6 linked regions of the Homo sapiens genome follow. The protein of the gene in region 2 interacts with the protein of the main gene of each other region in a pairwise test. Each region holds a gene or a part of one and is shown on either strand. Other genes may lie near its edges.

The links.
Region 1: the proteins of SFXN3 (region 2) and SH3GLB1 interact in binary tests that used the Homo sapiens proteins (3 or more experiments, as listed by UniProt).
Region 3: the proteins of SFXN3 (region 2) and SCN3B interact in binary tests that used the Homo sapiens proteins (3 or more experiments, as listed by UniProt).
Region 4: the proteins of SFXN3 (region 2) and LEPROTL1 interact in binary tests that used the Homo sapiens proteins (3 or more experiments, as listed by UniProt).
Region 5: the proteins of SFXN3 (region 2) and LAMP2 interact in binary tests that used the Homo sapiens proteins (3 or more experiments, as listed by UniProt).
Region 6: the proteins of SFXN3 (region 2) and TLCD4 interact in binary tests that used the Homo sapiens proteins (3 or more experiments, as listed by UniProt).

The regions. Positions count from the first base shown.
Region 1 is NC_000001.11:86,707,576-86,711,075, forward strand, and holds part of SH3GLB1 (endophilin-B1), read left to right. Parts: intron 1-3,500. UniProt on the Homo sapiens protein: May be required for normal outer mitochondrial membrane dynamics. Required for coatomer-mediated retrograde transport in certain cells. May recruit other proteins to membranes with high curvature. May promote membrane fusion.
Region 2 is NC_000010.11:101,034,234-101,037,733, reverse strand, and holds part of SFXN3 (sideroflexin-3), read right to left. Parts: intron 3,043-3,500; coding exon of another isoform or gene 3,040-3,042; coding exon 2,879-3,039; intron 2,238-2,878; coding exon 2,067-2,237; intron 1,791-2,066; coding exon of another isoform or gene 1,732-1,790; coding exon 1,633-1,731; intron 1,249-1,632; coding exon 1,173-1,248; intron 1,068-1,172; exon of another isoform or gene 1,012-1,067; coding exon 926-1,011; intron 659-925; coding exon 531-658; intron 353-530; coding exon 303-352; coding exon of another isoform or gene 1-302. UniProt on the Homo sapiens protein: Mitochondrial serine transporter that mediates transport of serine into mitochondria, an important step of the one-carbon metabolism pathway.
Region 3 is NC_000011.10:123,648,125-123,651,624, forward strand, and holds part of SCN3B (sodium channel regulatory subunit beta-3 precursor), read right to left. Parts: intron 1-3,500. UniProt on the Homo sapiens protein: Regulatory subunit of multiple voltage-gated sodium (Nav) channels directly mediating the depolarization of excitable membranes.
Region 4 is NC_000008.11:30,101,908-30,105,407, reverse strand, and holds part of LEPROTL1 (leptin receptor overlapping transcript-like 1), read right to left. Parts: coding exon 3,435-3,500; intron 1,109-3,434; coding exon 922-1,108; intron 1-921. UniProt on the Homo sapiens protein: Negatively regulates growth hormone (GH) receptor cell surface expression in liver. May play a role in liver resistance to GH during periods of reduced nutrient availability.
Region 5 is NC_000023.11:120,459,297-120,462,796, reverse strand, and holds part of LAMP2 (lysosome-associated membrane glycoprotein 2 isoform A precursor), read left to right. Parts: intron 1-3,500. UniProt on the Homo sapiens protein: Lysosomal membrane glycoprotein which plays an important role in lysosome biogenesis, lysosomal pH regulation and autophagy.
Region 6 is NC_000001.11:95,148,355-95,151,854, forward strand, and holds part of TLCD4 (TLC domain-containing protein 4), read left to right. Parts: intron 1-347; coding exon 348-437; intron 438-1,853; coding exon 1,854-1,912; intron 1,913-2,970; coding exon 2,971-3,065; intron 3,066-3,500. Other genes in the region: TLCD4-RWDD3 (TMEM56-RWDD3 protein), read left to right, coding at 348-437, 1,854-1,912, 2,971-3,065.

The sequences.
Region 1 (3,500 bases), on a different chromosome or scaffold from region 2:
TTAGAGATACATACTGAAATGTTTATGGATAAACTTATATCATATCTGAGATTTGGTTTTTACAGGGTATTTTTTTTTTTTTTTTTTTTTGAGATGGAGTTTGGCTCTTGTTGCCCAGGCTGGAGTGCAATGGCGCGATCTCAGCTCATTGCAACCTTCGCCTCCCCGATTCAAGCCAATCTCCTGCCTCCGTCTTTCAAGTAACTGGAATTACAGGCAGGCTCCACCACGCCCAGCTAATTTTGCATTTTTAGTAGAGATGGGGTTTCACCATGTTGGTCAGGCTGGTCTTGAACTCCTGACCTCAGGATCCACCTGCTTCGGCCTCCCAAAGTGCTGGGATTACAGGTGTGAGCCACCACACCAGTTGAGATTAGCGTTTGAATATTTCAAAAGAAAAAAACAGAAGTCGCTGAAACAACAGCAACGGAATGTTGATAGTTGTGGAAGGTTGGTTATGGGTTCATGAGGTTTCATTATACTGTTATACTTTTGTATGTTTGACATTTTCCATAATACTTTTTTAAAGATAAAATTTGTAAGAAAAAAAGGATGCTTCTAAAATAGAACATGTGAAATTTGGAATGCTGTGTGGTAGTTTTCAACAAAACACTGCTTTCTCATCTCAGTATTTATTTCATCACTGAGTTCCTACATTAAATTGCATTGACATCAGTATAATGCCAAAGTACCAAGTTTCATGCTAAGAATAGCTTAAGAGCTATGCCAATATCTCTTTATAAGCAGTAAGAACAGTAGAGAGAGAAACATTCACGTTTATAAATAATAATTTTCATTCAAATCAAATTGTACCGTAAGGAATATGCCATTCTTTGGTTGGCCAACGCCATACATTGTTTTCCATTTTACTTAAAAATTTCTAAGTTAAAAATTAAACATGTTTCTTGTTTTAAAAAAAGGTCAGCTCAAACTAGTAAAGCACATAGATGCGTCCCATCACCACTCCACTTCCCTCCTTTTAAAATTTGTTTATAAGCCTTGGTACTTTAAAAAGAATGTTAGACTAGAATGTATAAATGAGTAGGAATGTTTATTCTTAACTAGCCCATTTGGGTGCTTGTTTTTAAGTACCTCAAGATGGTAAAATACAAAAGTATCAGGTAATTCACCCTTGCTTAATTGTTATTTTACTAGAGTTTTAAATGCCATTTATTCTTAGAATCCATCTTTTTAGTCCAAACTTCTTAGTTGAGCATTAAATACTCCCTTACAATCTGGTCCTTTCTCTCACTTATATAAACACTGTATTCCAAATTATTTTTTAATTTCCAAAATATCTTCTACTTATTTTAGGCTTTTGTTCATATGGTTAGACTCCTCTTAAGTGTCCTGTCTGCCTATTCTTTCCTTTCCTTAAGATACAACTTTATTCATCTCCAAAATGGAGAGAGTAAAAAAAATTTTAAAATAAAAGTAAAATAAACTTTTTTTAAAGATATAGCTTCAAATCCATCTCAGCTGATAAGGCTTCTTAGACCACAAGAGCTTGCTGTGAAATCGTGAATCATTTTCAATTCCAAATGATGAGGTGGCACTTTTCTTCTAATGAACTGTTATGTTAGATCTCTTGGAACTCTAAAGTTCTGTTACTCTGACTTTCTTTAATAAGTTTGTATGTGCTAAGGCATCAACTCTGTTTCTTATTCCCCTCTTACAACATCTAACATGGTTCATCTTTTATATCATTTTAGCCAGGCAAATTACCATCCATATGTGAAGTTTAATCTTTGAAGGGCAACAATAAGCATGTTAAATAACAGTATCTTTATTAGTATTTTCTAACATTGTTTGCGGACCTTGAAGTTAACTAATACCAGTATAAATTGAGTACCTCCTAGGTGCTTGGCGTTGAAAGATACAAAGCTGAATGAGACCCTGTTCCTGCCCTCAGAGACTTCATAATAATAGTCTCAAACTTGTCATAAATCTTATTTGTACTAAATAGCCATTTTGTGAATAACTTTATTTGATAAATCTTTCAAGTGGATAAAGGAACAAGAGATGTGTTTTTAACTCAGAATTCTTATTGAAGCAAAACCTTGCTCACCATCATTAAAATAAGAGCAAAGACTTTCTAAAAAGAATTTTTCAAATCAAATTACTTAGGGAGGGAGTTCATTTTAATTTTCTAACATTTCCTCTAAACTGATTATTAAAGTCATACTATGAAATTCGTGAACACCAGCTATTTTCTAAGGAATATAGTTCTTAAAATATAGTTTTGAGCTTGGCCTTGATCTCCCATTTATTTCAGCAAGTGTCATGGTGTGTCTAAGGATGTAAAGATGAATATGATGTTGCCGTTCAATAGCTCCTGTCAGACCCTCCCTGGAGTTTCAGTTTGGCCAAACAACTCTCTCAAGCACTTCTGAAATCCTATTTCTTTTACAGAATTCACACCGTGACAACTTCACCATGTTTCTTAAATTCTAATAAATAAAATATGTCACATTCGAAATCCATACATTTTCTTGTTATATAAAAACTCTACATGTTTAGTGTTACTTAAAACTGTTTTCACATCCTTTGGTGCTATTTGCATTACTTTAGTAAAATAGATAGAAGATAGTTTGTTAACCTGATGTTAAAATTTACACTTATGTACTACATGAGTAAGGTAATTAGAAAATCTATAAAACTCTTTTAAATTCATCATATTTCTTGAAAGAATTTTTTTTTTTTTTTTGAGACGGAGTCTCGCCCTGTTGCCCAGGCTGGAGTGCAGTGGCACGATCTTGGCTCACCGCAATCTCCGTTTCCCAGGTTCAAGCTATCCTCCTTCCTCAGCCCCTCTAGTAGCTGGGATTACAGACACGCGCCACCGTGCCCGGCTAAATTTTGTATTTTTAGTAGAGACGGGGTTTCACCATGTTGGCCAGGCTAGTCTCGAACTCCTGATCTCAGGTGATCCACCCGCCTCAGCCTCCCAAAGTGCTGGGATTACAGGCATGAGCCACCGTGCCTGGCCTTTCTTGAAAGTATTTTTAAGGTAATGACAGAGCTACAAATTAATCCTAAACTCTTAACCACACCCAACTGATGTACTCCTAGTTGCTTTGCTACTATATTTAAAATGATCAAACACCTAAGTCAATTACTTTAATATTCTTTGGAGACCAGCTTACTGAAAGAACCTCAACACAGTTAATATATTTGAAGCAAAACTCCAGCACAGTGAAGTAACAGTAATAACAGCTGAAATTCCTAAATGGGCCAAAGAGGAAAGTAAAGTAATGCAGCATGCACTAAACCAAGCGATACATATTTAAATAGTTATGAATGAGTTTAGAACAGTGGTTCTCAGTCTTGGCTGCACTTAAAATGCTTGGGGAATCTTTATAAATGCCAATATATGAGCTACACCCCAGTCCAATTAAATTAGAATCTTAGGGGTTGGATCAGACCAGACATCAGTGTTTTCTAAAGCTCCCTCAAGTAATTCTAAAGAACAGCCAAAATTGGGAACCAATGGAGAAAGA
Region 2 (3,500 bases):
AAAAGAATGAGCATGAGATCAAGCATGACTATGACAGTCCCCTTCTGTGTGTCAGAAGCCACTGGAGTAACACTGATGAAGTTGGTTTCCTTCCTTTGTCCTCTCCTCCTGCCCCTGCAGAGTTCCTTCACCCCAGCCCAGTTCATTCTTGCTGAATGAACGAAGGTGGAGGAGGCGGTGCAGGGGTCAGGAGAAGGGCTGGCAAGTCTTAGAGAATCAGGCGAGGCTGGAGAGAGAGTTGGGGCCTGGTCACTTCTCCCAGCCATCGCCCATTCCAGGACAAGAGAGGTACAGTCGCCTACCTTCAGGAAGTCTTTCTTCTCCAGAGTGTCCATGATCAGTGGTGGGATGGCTGTGGGGAGAGCAGGGCCAAGAAGGAGAACATTAGTAGTGGAGTTAAAGTCAGGAACTGTGAAGGGTGACCCCCCTCAAAGCTCCTCCCTCTCTCCCCAGAGTCCTCCAAAGTCCCTGAGAACTGCACCTGCTTCTCTCAGAGTCTCCTATGCCCCACCCAGCCACTCCCGCCTTACCCATGGCAGGAATCGCCATGCAGATTCTTGAAATCACCACCTGGAAGATTCCCTGCTTGGCTGCAGTCACCGAGTAGCCAAGCCTCTGACCTGCCTCATCAGCCACCGGGATGCCCACCTGCAGCTCTCTGCAAGGGAGGGGGGTTGGGGTCAGATCACAGGCCCCGGATCCCACCTGCAATGCCCGAATGAGCAGCGGCTCCTCAGGGTCCCCTCACACACCCCAGGCTCAAAGGCTGGTTCTCCCACCTGAGGATCCCAGGGTCAGACTGAGCCAGGGCCCAGCAGCTCATGTCTGGGGAGGGAGAGGGATGTCCCCATTCTGAGGTGGTCTGCGTGGATGGACAGTGTGCTACATTCTGGGCATGCACATGCCAGGAGCCGGGGTCACTCACCTCTGCCTCATCAGGGGGATGTTGATGCAGTTGGCAGCTGCCACTGCTGCAAAGGGCACAAATCTGCCGACCAAGGGGGGCAGGTGCTGGGGAGGAAGGGTGTTGTTCAGTGGCCCTAAGGGCCATGGGGTGGTGAGGGACTCTGGGGAGATATAGGGGGCATATAGGTCAGAACTGGAGGTGTGATGAGGAAGAAGGAGGCAGATAGAGGATGAATGGGGTGGTCAGGGGAGTGAGGGGCCTTTACCTTGGTGAGGGATTTGAGTCCCAGGGCCGTGGCCACAGCTCCAGTGGTGGCACTCACATAGGCTGTCCCCAGCTGCCTGTGGGTGGAAAAGCCAGGTCACGGGGAGAGGTGACAAGTCCAGCAGGTGGCCCTTTCCTTTAGGGATATGCCAAGTCCTCAATACATGAGGCATAAAAGGGGAAGCTCCTTGCAGAAGAAGCCTTCCCTCCATCTCCGGCGTAAACTTGTCTAGAAGCCCCAGTAGCACCCTGTGAAGAGGGGTGGGTCCCCCACAGCATACATAAGAGGACCTCATGCCTTCAGTTAGGCAGGGTAATTCGGGGTGGGGCAGGCTGAGGAGAGGGCGCTGAGCACTGGCTGCATGGTCCACAGGGAACCGGAGAGAAAGGAGAGGGCACTGCAGGCTGGGAGGAGAGGGTCAGATGGGACAGTGCAGCTGCTGCTGGGGGCTGGCTCTCACCTCACAGTGATGGGAGTGTCACCACTGCGGTTGGAGTAGTTAACAATGGCATTGAAGGACTGATTCACCCACTGCCAGAACACCACGGTTGGGGTCTTCCTGAGGGAACAAAGACACTCACTTCTGCCCCGTCTACAGTGGCCCTCATCTTTAGACCCCTGTAATGAAACCAAAGGTTATTCCCCAAGCCTAAGAAGGGACCCAGTTAATGGCCCTAGAACCTGTTCTGGTAACCCCTATGTACCCCCACCCCCATTTATACAAACACACCTACTGTCTCTGGGGTGAGAGACCTCCTGAGGCTGAATTCTGAGGAATGGAAGCGATTCTGACACAATCTTTCACTCACCCAGTTGGCCCAGACAAGAAGCGCACCTAGTCAAGCTATGCTCTAGCTTAGGGCACTGAAGAAGGGGACGTGGGACAAGACCTGCCTGTAGAATGTGAGCATGCAGCCAGTGATGGTCATGTTCATGGGCACCTGGGCTGACATGCGGCCAATCAGGACCACCTTCTCCCCTGTGTCCGGATGGAAGGCGGAGTCATACACATACTTGGCCCTCCACAGCTGGTCCTCGGTGATCCCTGGGGTCACCACGCCGGCCCTGCAGAAGTTGGCAAGGAGCAGACAGGCTATGCCAGGGGGCAGATCTGCCCTCACAGGCCCCACCTGCCCAGCTCAGGGTAACTCTGGACAGAGAACCAGGAACTTCAGCCCCCAGTCTCAGCATAAGGAAGCTCCTTATCTTTGGGAGAGGGCCAAAGTTTCCCAGAAGTGGAGGCTCCTATTTCTATTTCCCTTATAGCCACACAAAGAGGGGTACCCTTCTGTTTCTGCCAAAATGCTGGGTCAGGGATGATGGTGGTTTCCAGTGGGTCAAAAATGGCTGCAAGCATTGCAAGAGTTTTTCCTCCCAAAGATAAGGGGATTTCCCTCCTATCTTCCTGGGACTCCACTTTGAGCACCTCTATCCTTGCAGAGGGTGACCCCGCAATGGGATAGATCCCTGTAGAGGTTTGTGATGCATAGAGCAGCCCCTCCCATAAATATCAATGCCATCTTCTCAACCCAAATGCCCTAAAATCCTTTGGGTTAAAGCTCTGTGATGCCAACAGACGGGGCTAGAGAGTGAGGGGATTGAGGGACAGGGTCACTGTCAAGCTTGAGGAGGCAGGTACAAAACATATTATATTAATCACAGAAAATGAGATCCTGGCACACAGGGTCAGATTGAGGGGTGGTCACCTGTAGTTCTGCACGATGTTCCGAGAAGCTTCCAGCTGTGCCCCGGACAGCAGCAGATTTCGAGGATCAGTAACAGTGAAAAAGTGCCGGGCTCTGCCCAGGAAAGTACTTTGGTCCCAGCGAGGTTCCTGGATGTTGATGTCTAAAGGCAATTCACCCATTTTCTGCAGGACAGAGATAAGGGTCAGAGCGGGAGTCCAAGGGTCCAAGGGCTCCAGCTAGGGGAAATCTTTGGTGCCCCTGCCCTGGCCCCTGAGCTTATCATCAGTCCCTTCAAGAGCTCAAGGTGACTAGATGTAGGGAAAAGAAAGAGAGATCAGACTGTTACTGTGTCTATGTAGAAAGGAAAGACATAAGAGACTCCATTTTGAAAAAGACCTGTACTTTAAACAATTGCTTTGCTGAGATGTTGTTAATTTGTAGCTTTGCCCCAGCCACTTTGCCCCAGCACTTTGACCCAATCTGGAGCTCACAAAAACATGTGTTGTATAAAATCAAGGTTTAAGGGATCTAGGGATGTGCAGGACGTGCCTTGTTAACAAAATGTTTACAAGCAGTATACTTGGTAAAAGTCATTGCCATTCTCTAGTCTCAATAAACCAGGGGCACAATTAACTGCGGA
Region 3 (3,500 bases), on a different chromosome or scaffold from region 2:
TCAAGGCACATTCATATTTAATGAGAGCTGGCAAAGATAAATTCATTCATTTCATGTTGACAAACTCAGAAGTGGACTAAGAAGTCTCAAGGAATGCACAGTTACAATTATAGAGGCAGGGTGAAGATAGAATCTGGCAACTGAAGAGTTGGGTTTGATGTACTATGTAATCTCTCTGGACTCAGTTTATTCATCGACATCATGCTGAAAGTTACATCTGTCTAGTAGGTTTATCATGAGAATTTTATGGATTAATTTACATGAATGTGCTTTGTACAAATGTCATTATTCATGTTATTCTATCTTTCGTTTATTTCCCAAATATACTGAGTGCCTTCTGGGTGCCAGGCATTATTCTAAGCACGAAGAATACACCAGAGAACAAAAGAAAAGAATCCCTGTTTTATGGAGCTTACATTCCAATGGAGGGAGAGGGAAAACAGCAACATTAAATAGTAAAAAGTGCTGTGAGAAAAAATAAAACAGGAGAGAGTGTGTGCACAGGGTCATTGGAGGATGGCCTTTCTGAGAAGGTATCATTGAGCAGGCGCTGAAGAAAAGAAATGAGGATACAAGCTATACACATATCTGTGTGAAGGCATGTCAAACACAGGAAATTGCAACTCAAGGGCTCAAGGGGCCCAAAGGAGTGTGTTTGTCATGCTCAACAGACAGCAAACAGTCCAATGTGGAAATTACAGCAAACAACGTGAGAATAGAAGGGGATGAAGTAGTAGGAGGGATGGGGAGGGCCAGATCACAGCAGGTCTTATTGGCCATGTTAGAACCTTGGCATTTGCTTAGAGTTTATGGCATTTGCATGGAGCAGCAGAAGGTTCTGAGAGGAAGAATGATGGGATCTAATTTGTACAAGATCATATGATCTGATGCTGTGTTGGGAATAAACTGATGAAGTGAAAGGGACAAGGGTGGAATCAAAACAGTTAAGAGGTCTGGTACAGGGATCGGATTGGAAGACGATTTTGTTTTGGTGAAGATGACAGTAGAGCTGGTGGAGTTTGAAAGAAATGAAATGCAAGAAAATGATTTGCTGGATTAACATCTTTGAAAAGGTGAGAGGTGATGTGCTCTAGTGAACAAGTAGATGGGATGGCAGAGATAGAAGCATAGTTAGTTCATTTATAGTTAATGGAGGGAAAGCAGTCAGGATGGCAAATGGGGTATGGCAGAAAGTGGGGTAGCCCCTCTCTTTTCTTGGTTGCCCCTAAGGCAACAATAATCCAAGGTATCATCATAGAGCAAGTCCCACTCCTTCCCTTCTGGTCAAAATCTAGTTTCAGGGCATGAGAACTCTGCTCGTATGATCCTGAAGAGTACATTGAAAAATGGCCACAAAGTTCCCCCACCTCTGTTTGCTTGCCTTTTGCAGTATGACTTGCTGCTCCTTGCTTCAAGAGGTAATGTCTGTTTCTCCATCCTTTGAGTCTTCAGCACACCACTGTCTTTCTTTCTTTCTCCTTTCTTTTTCTTTTCTTTCTTTTTTCTTTCTTTCTTTTTTTTCTTTCTTTCTCTTTCTTTCTTTCTTTTTTTCCTCTCTCTCTCTCTGTCTCTGTCTCTCTCTCTTTCTTTTTTTTTTAGATGGAGTTTCACTCTTGTCACCCAGGCTGGAGTACAATGGCATGATCTCAGCTTACTGCAACCTCCGCCTCCTGGGTTCAAGCGATTCTCCTGCCTCAGCCCCCTGAGTAGCTGGGATTACAGGCACCTGCCATCACGCCCAGCTAATTTTTGTATTTTTAGTAAAGACAGGGTTTCACTATGTTGGCCAGGCTAGTCTCAAACTTCTGACCTCAGGTGATCTACCCACCTTGACCTCCCAAAGTGCCGGGATTACAGACATGAGCCACAGCACCCAGTCCACCACTGCCCTTCTTTCTATGAAACCCTCTAGGTATTCAAAGAAGGCTGTAAATATGGCAGGAGCTCAAACTACATTGCTGACTAAAAGTAACAAACTCTTGGAATAATGTTGACCAAATCATTTGACCTTTGTTCTTCTCTTCAATTCCCATAATAATAATGAAGAAATTTATGAGAAGGAAAAACATGATTATTAATAATGATCATATTTCACTAGGGAGTAGTAGCATCCATCTATCATGAGGCAGATAATAAAGAATTATGAACCAGCTTCTCTGATACCCTCAAATCTTTCTCTTCTTTGGACAATGCCCAATTTTTCCTCCTGAGATTGCTCTAGAATGCTTTCCTTTGCACTGAGATAATGAAAAATTTGATTAGAATATAAACAATTTCCAAAAAGGGGTAATAAATGAGGTTATTTTTAGATGCTGACACCCTGACGTGACTTGTTCTGTCAATTTAGCTGGTCACTTAGGGCCTTGAATAGGATGCACGAAAGATCACCAGGGGAAGAGAGGAAAACACACAGGGCAACTAGAAGGGCAGGCCTGGAGAAGAAGGGCAGAGAAGGTACTAGGTGCTAGTGAGTGAGGCCCTAGGACAGGTGATGGTGTTGGGGAGAGATGGGACGGTAGCTCAGAAGAGAAATGGGAGGACAGGTGCCCTCCTGGCGATTGTGCATAGTAGCACATGTGTCCATGAGAGGTGCTAGAAGGAGCACTGGAAGACTGAAATCAGAAAACAAGGGTTCTCTAGCAAGTCCTTTCCCTTCCCCGAGCTCATTTTCTCATCTCTAAACTGGAAATAGCACTCTTTCCCCTGACTACCTCAGGGATAGACATGAGGACCAAAACAAGCAATGTATTGAAAATTACATTGTAAACTGTGATGCACAGGCAAATATAGGGTTTTATTTATTTATTTATTTTAAAGGCTGGGCATGGTGACTCATGCCTATAATCCTAGCATTATGGGAGGCTGAAGCAGGAGGATTACTTGAGCCCAGGAGTTAGAGACCAGCCTGGGCAATATGGCGAGACATCGTCTGTATTAATTTTTTTAATACAATTATTATTATTTTATTGTATTAATTATTTATTGTATTAATTATTTATTGTATTGTATTATTTTTTAAATCTCTTTAAAAAATAAAAATTATTACATGCTTTAACAAAGGAAATAAGGAAACTTTTTTTCATGCATGCAGAAAGTAAATGGAAAGACTCTTTCCCTTCATATTGTACATCATATTAAAAAATCAACTTTGGAAGGGGGAACACATCTAACCCAGCATTATTGTTCAATATTGGAATTGCATGCAAATCAAATGAAATTGTATCTGTGAAGGGCGGCTGTTTTTCTTTCTTTTTTTTTTGATGGAGTCTCGCCCTGTTGCCCACGCTGGAGTGCAGTGGCACAATCTTGGCTCACTGCAACCTCCACCTCCCAGGTTCAAGCAATCCTCCTGCCTCAGTCCCCCTAGTAGCTGGGATTATAGGCACGCACCACTATGCCCGACTAATTTTTGTATTTTTAGCAGAGATGGGGTTTCGCCGTGTTGGCCAGGCTGGTCTTGAACTCCTGACCTCAGGTGATCCACCCGCCTCGGCCTCCCA
Region 4 (3,500 bases), on a different chromosome or scaffold from region 2:
AGAAGCAGCATAAAATTCTACAAGTTTCTGTTTATAAAGGAATGTGCTTACTCTTCCTTAATATAAAAATCTATCTAGAGTAGATTAAATTTTAGCATATCACAGATGGAAACACACCCATGTACATTCTTTTGAAGGGGTGGGAAAACAATTGCCTTCTCCATATGGCTGTCTTCTCTACCTCCCCAGAGATGAAGGCGCGTGGATCAGTGAGTTTGGGAGGAAGAACTGAGTACCCGTAGCCAGCCCCTTCCCCTCTTCAGTGCTTTTCTGCCTGCAGAGCACATGCACCTTCTCAGGTCTTCCATATTTTAGGTTTTACAGGATAGGCCTGGGTTGTTCAGCACTGGGGGAGTTGATATGCTCAACTCTGACAGTTAAGTATTAGCAAGCCAGACGGGTGCGGTGGCTCATGCCTGTAATCCCAGCACTTTGGGAGGCCGAGGCGGACGGATCACGAGGTCAGGAGGTCGAGACCATTCTGGCTAACACGGTGAAACCTCGTCTCCACTAAAAACACAAAAAATATCAGCTGGGCGTGGTGGCGGGCACCTGTAGTCCCAGCTACTCGGGAGGCTGAGGCAGGAGAATGGCGTGAACCCGGGAGGCAGAGCTTGCAGTGAGGTGAGATCACGCCACTGCACTCCAGGCTGGGCGACAGAGCAAGACTCCATCTCAAAAAAAAAAAAAAAAGAAAAAAAAAAGTATTAGCAAGCCAACAGCTGCTGCAGATCCAAGCCACGTTCTCCAATATCACTTTTATTAGTTAACAAGAACAAACAATAAAGTGAGATTTTAATCTCTATCTTCTAGGCTCTTATGTCTTTCACCTCTTTTCATGTCATTAACAAAAACTTTGCTTGAGAAAAATGTAACACATGTTCAATATAAAATCATTAATGGAAGAATATATTCACTTACCAGATGTGCTCTGGCAAATACAATAGGGAGTCCAAAAGCTGACACGACAATGCCCGTTGTAAGAAAGATGGCAAGTTCCTTACAAGCGTTACTCATAGCATCTGTATCATCCACTAATCTTCTTGCTATGCAGTATGGAATAGGTGAAAGGATGTAAAAAAATAGAACAAAGAGGGGCCAGTATTTGCTAGAAAAAGAAAAATAAGTTAATGTAATTTTTGCTATGTCATTTTCCTACACACAAAATATGGTCTTTTTAAAAAATCAAGATTCAATCGCTTGACTTCTAATGGATGATACCCAACCTTAGCATAAAGCTGAAACAACCCTAAACTTCCCTTACAACACGAGGAACTCCCAAATTACAGAAATCAAAATACAGAAAAGAAGCTAAAAGTAAGAACACTTTCAGTCAGAATATAGAATTTATCACAATAAAAATAGATGGCTTTTACTCTACATCTAGTTAACTGTATTGTACCACAGTCATTTCCTGGTTTTGATAACTATGGTTATGTAAGATCTTATGACTCTGGCAGGCTGTGTGGAGGGTACAGGGGACCTCTGTGTATGATTTTCACAACTTCTTCAGAATCTAAAATTGTTTCAAAATAAAAAGTTAAAAAGAAATAGATGCCCTTAAAACTACCATAGAATAAAATAGGTATCATGGTGGAGATCTGATTGTACAGAGGCTAATGATAAGCAGCTACTTATGTTTCCTAAATTTTTTTTTTTTTTTTTTGAGACAGAGTCTCGCTCTGCTGCCCAGGCTGGAGTGCAGTGGCATGATCTCGGCTCACTGCAACTTCTGCCTCCTGGGTTCAAGTGACTCTCCTGCCTCAGCCCCCGTGACTAGCTGGGATTACAGGCGTGCACCACCATGCCCGGCTAATTTTTGTATTTTTAGTGGAGATGGAGTTTCACCATGTTGGCTAAGCTGGTCTTAAACTCCTGACCTCAGGTGATCCACCCACCTTGGCCTCCCAAAGTGCTAGGATTACAGGCATGAGCCACTGCGCCTGACCATTTCCTAAATATTTTAAGAAAAAAAATTAAAAATTGAATATATGCTTAAGAAAAATAATTCAAACAGTACAAAAGCACAAAAAGTAAAGACTAAAAGTTCCAAATCTCCTCTTGCCCACTTTCCTATTGAGCTTCTCAGGGACCCTTCCACATTTCCACATAAACTTTAAAATATGAATGGGTCCCTGCAGTTTTCTAACAATATGTCTTGAACATATTTACATGTTAGCACTTACAGCTCTTCCTCATTCTTTTTAAGACTGCCTAGTATTTCCATTAAAAGATTTACTATAATTTAACCATTTTTCTTTTGAAGGACATTTAGGATGTTTTCAGAATTTTTTTTGGCTCTTATAAATAACGCATAAAACAACAAAACAAAAACAAAAACCAAAAAATAAACAAGGCTGCTTGAACATCCATACTCTCCCCCACTAAATATATCTTTGTAAACATCTGCAAGTGGGTTTGTATCAGAAAGTCTAACAAGTGAAAGGGCTAACTCAAAGAATATATACTTTGAGAGCTACAAGCAAACTTATCTCCAAGAAAACTATCTATGTGTACTCCCCCCACAGCACAAAAGAGTCCCTGCTTGCCCTGTCTCTTGTCTTTGTCAATAGATTTTGTTTAGTTTTGAGTGAGGCTGGGGATATTTTTATGTGCTTATTAGCAATTTGTAGTTCTCTTTTTGTATTTATTTTTCTATTGAGTTGTCCATCTTTTTCTAATTTATCTAAATGTTAAAATGTTAACTTTGAGAAGTTCTTTCTATCCTAAGGAAAGAAATTTTTTTTTTTTTTTTGGAAACAGAGTCTTGCTCTATCACCCAGGCTGGAGTGCAGTGGCGTGATCTTGGCTCACCGCAACCTCCATCTCCTGGGTTCAGGCGATTCTCCTGCCTCAGCCTCCCGAGTACCTGGGACTACAGGCATGTGTCACCACGCCTGGCTATTTTTTTGTATTTTTAGTAGAGATGGGGTTTCACCATGTTAGCCAGGCTGGTCTTGAACTCCTGACCTCAGGCAATCCTCCCGCCTTGGTCTCCCAAAATGCTGGGATTACAGGTGTGAGCCACCGCACCCGGCCGGAAAGTAATTGTTTACATCTCTCTCTTTTTTTTTAATTGTGTTTTGACTGCTTATGGTATTTTTTTGCAAAAAGACATTTTAAATTTTCTTGTAATTAGTATTATCAATAGATGTTAAAAACTGAGCAGGAGGGCTGAGGTACTGTGTAGCTATCTTGCCACTGCAGACTCAGCAGTAGTGAAAGAGCAGGTAACAGCCAAAAATATTATTTGCATCTTGGTGTCCTAAAATCTTTAGAAACAAACTTTAAGTGGTGATTTTTACAAAGGTATGTGTTTGGTAAGTGAACATTTCTCTGCATTACTTTTACAGTAGTAAAAAAACATTTTTTTAAGCTTTAAAAGTAGAAAAATTTTACCCTTAAATATTCAGAAAGACAAACATTTTACATACTTGTATATTGGAAGGGCACATCCAAGCATCAAAAACATCAGTCCGATTGCTCCTCCAAAGGACAAA
Region 5 (3,500 bases), on a different chromosome or scaffold from region 2:
TTTGAGTTCTAGCTCTTCCACTCCAGGAATGGGGACTCTTAATCACTTCATTATATAATCAATCCATTGTATCTTGGATCATTGTTTGGTTTCTTTTTATTGGTTTTGTTTTATTGCTAGCATTATGTTCTTCCCCCACCCCTAATTTTGTGTGTTTATGTTTTCAGCTATACTTTGGGTCAAATAGACTTGCAAAAACCTAGCCACTTTTTGCAGTGTCATACACTTGGGGAAGTAAGGTCTGTGTTCTCTGTGAGAGGTTTTTTTTTTTTTTTTTGACAGGGTCTTGTTCCATTCCCCCAGCTGGAGTGCAGTGGAGTGATCTTGGCTCACTGCAACCTCTGCCTCATGGGCTCAAGCGATCCTCCCATGTCAGCCTCCCGAGTAGTTGAGACCACAGGCATGCACCATCACACCCAGCTATTCTTTTGTATTTTTAGTATAGATGGGGTCTTGCCATGTTGCCCAGGCTGGTCTTGAACTCTTGAGCTCAAGTGATCTGCCCCCCTTGGCCTCCCAAAGTGCTAGGATTACTGGTGTGAGCCACTGCCCGGTCAAGGTCTGCATTCTAAAAGAATTTACAAATGACCTTTTTGGAAAACAGGATTGAGAGGATATTTGACTTTGAGAACGGTTGATTTTGAGGCATACCTTTTTCTTTTATTTAGAGAATAAACTCTCAGCTCTAAAATTACACACTCTAGAATATATTCATCTATGGTTTTTTAATGTCATAAAGCCTTTTAAAAATTGGGTATTGTAAAATCAAACACAGCAATAAGGATGGAAATTGCTTGCTAGATACTTTTTAATAAAGTGTAAATATTTCAACTGTAAACTTACCTTTTGGGAAAAGCTCTGTTCCTAGCTTGACATCCATGTCAAAATTTATTGAAGTGAAACCCAACATGGGGTTTGAGGGAATATCCAGAAGACTGATATGTTCAAGATTTGGAAGAGCTAAAGGACTGGCCTCTCTGTAATTAGATTAAGCTATGTTTTGGGTCCCTATTGCAGTGTGTTTTCACCTTGATATAATTAATCAGTATTTATTGAAAATCTAATATGCATTCAGCACTACTTGGAATGATAGGAGATAGAGGAAAAGTAATACACATGGTGTCCCCTACCATGACACTCATGATAGATGACATTCATATAAAAGACACACTGCTAGGGGTTGTGGGATACATCAGATCATCTGATCAAGGGAGCATACTGGAGTTCAAACGAGTGACAGAAATGTTATCTAAAGGGAATCTTGAATCTATCCATATATATCATTCATTCACAGACTTGGTACTTTTTTTATTAGTAACAAATTACTTACTGTATACTATAATTTACCATGGCACACCAGTTTGTTATGAAGTGACAGTTGAAAACTGCTGTGTTGGAGCTTATGACAGTAGGAGGGACAGGATTTACTGCTATAAAATAACTGAATAATTCAGGATAATGTAAAATATACTGAAATGGGATGTGCATTATTACTGCTCCTTGAGGGCTTTTATAGTCAGGGAAAGCTTTGTGGAGAAAATGGCTACTGAAAAAACAGATAGCATATCAGCCCAGGTTCTTAATTGCAAGGAAGAGAAATACAATCTGATTGATTTTAAGCAGAAAAGAATTTATTAAAAAGAACTGGGATATAATGCATACCCTTTGGCCCCACAGTTTCATTCCTAGATATACAGCCAACATACACGCATACATGTGTTTACTAATATGTGCAAGAATGTTTGCAGCAGTGTTTGTAATAGAATCACACTGGAAACTAAATGCCCATTAAAGGTAGCATAGATAAGTAGTTTTTTTGTTTGTTTGTTTTTGTTTTTTTTTGAGACAGAGTTTCATTCTTGTTGCCCAGGCTGGTGGAGTGCATTGGCATGATCTTGGCTCACTGCAACCTCTGCCTCCCGGGTTCAAACGATTCTCCTGTATCAGCCTCCTGAGTAGCTGAGATTACAGGCATGTGCCACCATGCCCAGCTAATTTTTATATTTTCAGTAGAGGTGGGATTTGGCCATGGTGGCCAGGCTGGTCTCGAACTCCTGACCTCAAGTGATCCACCCTCCTTGGCCTCCCAAAGTGCTGGGATTACAGGCGTGAACCACCCCACCTGGCCTGTATTCACCTGATCATAGAAGGTTATACAGCAGTGAGCACAGACTGCAATTATGCATAACATGGGTGAATCTCACAAAACCTAAAATTGAGGAAAGAAAGCAGACACAAAAGAGAGCATAGTGAATGATTTTATTTATATCAAGTTGAAAAATGGATAAAATTAATCTATAGTGTCAGAAATCAGGATAATGGTTACCCTTGGGAAGGGAATAGTAACCCTTGGGAAGGGAAAGGGAAATAAGGAGGGCTTTGGAAGTGTAGTTGACCCTTGAACAACACAAGTTTGAACTGTGTGTGGATCTACTTATACATGAGTTTATTTCACCTCTACCACCCTGAAGACAGCAAGACCAACCCCTCCTCTTCCTCCTCCTCGTTATGATTTTTTTTTTTTGAGACGGAGTCTCTATCTGTTGCCCAGGCTGGAGTGCAGTGGCGCGATCTCAGCTCACTGCAACCTCTACCTCACAGGTTCAAGCGATTCTCCTGCCTCAGCCTCCCAAGTAGCTAGGATTATAGGTGACCACCACCAAGCCCAGCAAATTTTTAGTGGAGATGGGGTTTCACCATGTTGGCCAGGCTGGTCTCGAACTCCTGACCTCAAGTGATCCGTCTGCCTCAGCCTCCCAAAGTGCTGGGATTATAGGTGTGAGCCACCATGCCCAGCCCTCCTTATGATTTTCTTAACATTTTCTTTTCTCTAGCTTTATTTTCAAAACACAGTATGTAACACATATATAACATACAAAATATGTGTGAATCGACTGTTTATGTTGTTGGTAATGCTTCCAGTCAACAGTAGGATATTAGTAGTTAAGTTTTGGGGGAGTCAAAAATAATATGCAGATTTTCAACTGTGCAGTGGGTCAACACCTGTTAATGTTCTGTTTCTTGACACAGGTGGTTTTGGTTTGTGAAATTATTTGAGCTGTAGACTTAATGTTACGTGCACTTTTCCCTTACATCTGTTATACTGTGCCTGTTTCTGTACATATGTTACATATCAAATGTTTATTAAAGGGGTATATTGGGTAACTCAGAATTTCTGGTGCTCCTGGCTATATATACCAAATCCCAGTTCAGGATTCAACAACCCAGATCATGCTGCTGAACTGCACTACCACTGCCAAGTGTGAAATTGAAGCTTGCTCTGCTGGCCTTGTTGCCTGGGAGCTTGATCCTGCTTCTGTTACTCCACACCTGTCTCCCTCCCTGTTCCATTCCTGGCTCCATTTGCAGCCCTCCTTTCAAAGTGTGGGGTGGATACCTTTGTTAGGCAGAGCCTAGCACAAGTGGTCCTCCTTACTGCAAGGGAGTCTGGGAAAGCAAGTATCCAGTGTTTTCAGCTTTTATAGTGGGTGGTGATTTCT
Region 6 (3,500 bases), on a different chromosome or scaffold from region 2:
TAGTGGCCTTGCCAGTTGCCATCTGGCTGCACAAAAGTCTGTCAGCTGCATCATCATGTATGCATTTATCTGTCTTAGAACTTTTAACCAATAAGTGATTCACCAGTTCTCTAGCAGGAAATTGTAGGCCTTGGTATCTTCCTCCTTCTTTATTCCAAAGTAAAGCTGTGGCCTTTGGATTTCTAAATGGCAAGAAATGGCAATTTTGCATTATACTCTCCGTTATACTTCACACCTGTATATAAATGCTTCCAGGTATAACTTGTTCAGAATGTTCTGTGTCTTGTCAGGATTAAATTTTATTGCAAAGAATCTAAAATCTTTGTGTGTATTTTGTTTAATTTCAGGGTAGTATCCACATGCCATTCTTTGGTGGTTGGTATTTTTGGCCTGTACATTTTCTTATTCGATGAGGCTACTAAAGCTGATCCACTTTGGTAAGCTGTTTCTTTTTCTAAGATTGCCAATTTCATTTATGTTTTGATATTAATTATTTATAAGAACATCACTTACTTTAAAACAGAAAACATATTGATCGTATATGCCTTATTAAAATGCTTGTGCTCAGACATTCTAGCAAAGTGCATTTAAATGATTTATTTTAGATTTGAACACAAATGAAGGCCATTTTGCCTTAGTGTAGCAATTGTTATCCAAAACAAGGAGAATATGATGATAATTTAAACATTTTTACTGTGTTAATGAGTAAAGCCAAGTTATTGTAGTCACAGTTCTGAAGAAAAATAAATCATTATTGAGATAGGGTAGTCAACTTGGATAATATCTACTTAAGACTTTTTTGTCTCCAATTTATGTTTGACTCATTTGATATCAAAGAGATGAAATGAGAGTTACAGATGGCCATGTGATAGGAATTTAGTACCACAGGATTTGAAGCACTAATGCACTAATAATAACTGTGTTCAGTAGTAATAGGATAACATGTAAGATGGTCCTTTTAGAAAAATTTAAATGTCATTCCAATGGCAGAAATTTTGCAAACTGTTTCCTGGTGTTATATGAGAAGGCTTAGTTCAGCTTAGTTTGAGAGAGCAGGCATGTTTGAAGAAGCACTGCACTGAGATGAGGTAGTTGTGGGCTCCGGGGGATGTAGGGCAATTTAGCCTTTTCTTTTGACCACCACCATTTGACTGCAAGGACGTTTTTCTATTCATAAATATAAAATTATTCCCAGAAGAATAATATCAGTATTGATACATTTTCATTGGGATGCTGTTTTTCAAAGAGAATTAATTTATTGAATTTAATTCCATGACTAGGTTTTTAAATAGTCTACCTACAAAATTTCTAGCTTTTTAAAAATTTTCGTTTTCATTTTACTAACGTGACCATCAGCAAAATAAAACCAGTTCTTTTGGGAAGTAAATTTCATAACAAAGATTTGATTCATTGTTCAAGTTTTGCCTTATCGAACTTTAACATAATTTTTGATTTGAATTTTATGTCATGATTTACTCCAGGTCAAATTTTCCTGGTTATATTTACAGATCAAAATTTGTAAAGAAGGCACAACTTGTGCTAAATCTTTCTATTAAATATTTGTAGTCCAGCTATTTTAGTTAGTGTTACTTTCACTAGTAGTTCACTTTGTAACTATCTTACTATGTAAGATAACAGCAGTAGTTACCTTACTGCTAACACCAGTACCACATGATGCGTCACAGTTTGGCTAAACTGTCATTGTGTGTTTTGCAATTTTATTTGAAGATGACAGCTTACCATTTGAGAATCTATAGAAAGCAATTTTATTATATTTAAATCTCTATAGAAAAAAGAAGTAGCGGTCATCTACAATCTATATACTTTAAAAAGGAACCTTTTTTTTTTTTCAGGGGTGGTCCATCACTTGCAAACGTGAATATTGCTATTGCCTCAGGCTACCTCATTTCTGGTATGTGAGATGTTGTTTTATTGTCTAATTCCTTGTAAACTACTCACGGAATTATACAAAGAATATATAGTCTATGCTTTTGGTTTATTTGAGAGATAGCATTTAGGAAGCATACAGAGGAAAAAAATACCTCCCATGATGGTAGAACATGAAATGTCTTTTCATGAAATGGTTTTCTGTTTCTCACTGAAGATCAGAGTTACAGAGTGATGCCTCAAACAACTGAGGCCTGGACATTTTTTATCAGCAAGGATATGGTCCCTCTTTGTCCTAATGAGGCTCTTAAGTGTAATGACTGTGAAACTAACGAAATTTAACTTTTAGGGTCCCTCACTTGCAAGAGTTCTTGAAATGTGTTCCAGTAGTCATGGTTTTGTGTTGTTTTTGTAAAATTTGCAGAAGTAAGCTTTTTTCTTTGTTTTTCTTTTTAATAGTTATAGTTTTTGGTGGCGTCACTATTTTGAATTAGTATTTAATTGCATTCTTTTTTATTTTTAAAATATTTTTTGTACGATTTGTTTTATAAATGAGTTGGTCATTTTGTACCTTCCCTATGACCATCTTATCTCTGTTTGAATTATTGTAGTGACAAAAATCAGTCACTTAAGCTTATTTAAAATTATTTCTATTCAATAATATTTTTTGTTTATTTTAACTCTGGAAACAAGTTATTCATTTATGCTTTCAACAAATATTATATTACATATGATTAGGTTGGTACAAAAGTAATTGCAGTTTTTGTGATTAAAAATAATGGCAAAAATCACAGTTACTTTTGCACCAACCTACATGCCAGGCCTTGTGCTAGATTCTGAGGGTTTAAAGATGCTCACAACCTGGCCCTTGTCTTAGAGGAGCCACAGGAGTGTGGATGAGACAGGCATATAGGAGCAGAGATTTTATGGTAAAGTAGATAATCAGACTAACTGAGGGATGAACAAAGTGCTGTGGGCTCAGAGTGGACAGTGATGAGTTGGCAGGAGAAAGAGTTCAATACATTTGAAAAACAGTGCAACTTTCTTCTTATGTAATACCTTACTCACTTTTCTTTCTTACAGATTTGTCCATTATAATTTTGTATTGGAAAGTGATTGGTGACAAATTTTTTATAATGCATCATTGTGCGTCCCTGTATGCATACTACCTTGTACTGGTGAGTTCCAGGATTTTCTGTAGCCTAACTAGCAGACAAGATTGGGAATAGTGATGTAAAGGTGAACATAAATCTAAACATACAATTCTTAGTTTTTAAAGACCATCTCCAGATGCATTCAGGGATTGCTTTTGTGGTATGCTATCTTCTGTATTAACTAAAATAATACCTTTATGTGTGTCTGTGTTGGTGTTGGTGTGTCTGTTTGTATTCATAGATTTTGAGACAGACAAATGACCCTAATTCTTTGAATTTCCATTTAAAACCTTCAGGATTGTTGTAGCTATAGATATTTGTCTGTATTTCTAGATGCATTTATGATTTAACAGCAAAGAGTATGAGCCAGCGAAAATATTTCTTTTCTGTTTAATTCCATGTGCAATTACATATACATAATTACATTTAAGTAGGTTGGAGCAGTGGAGAAATCTTGCT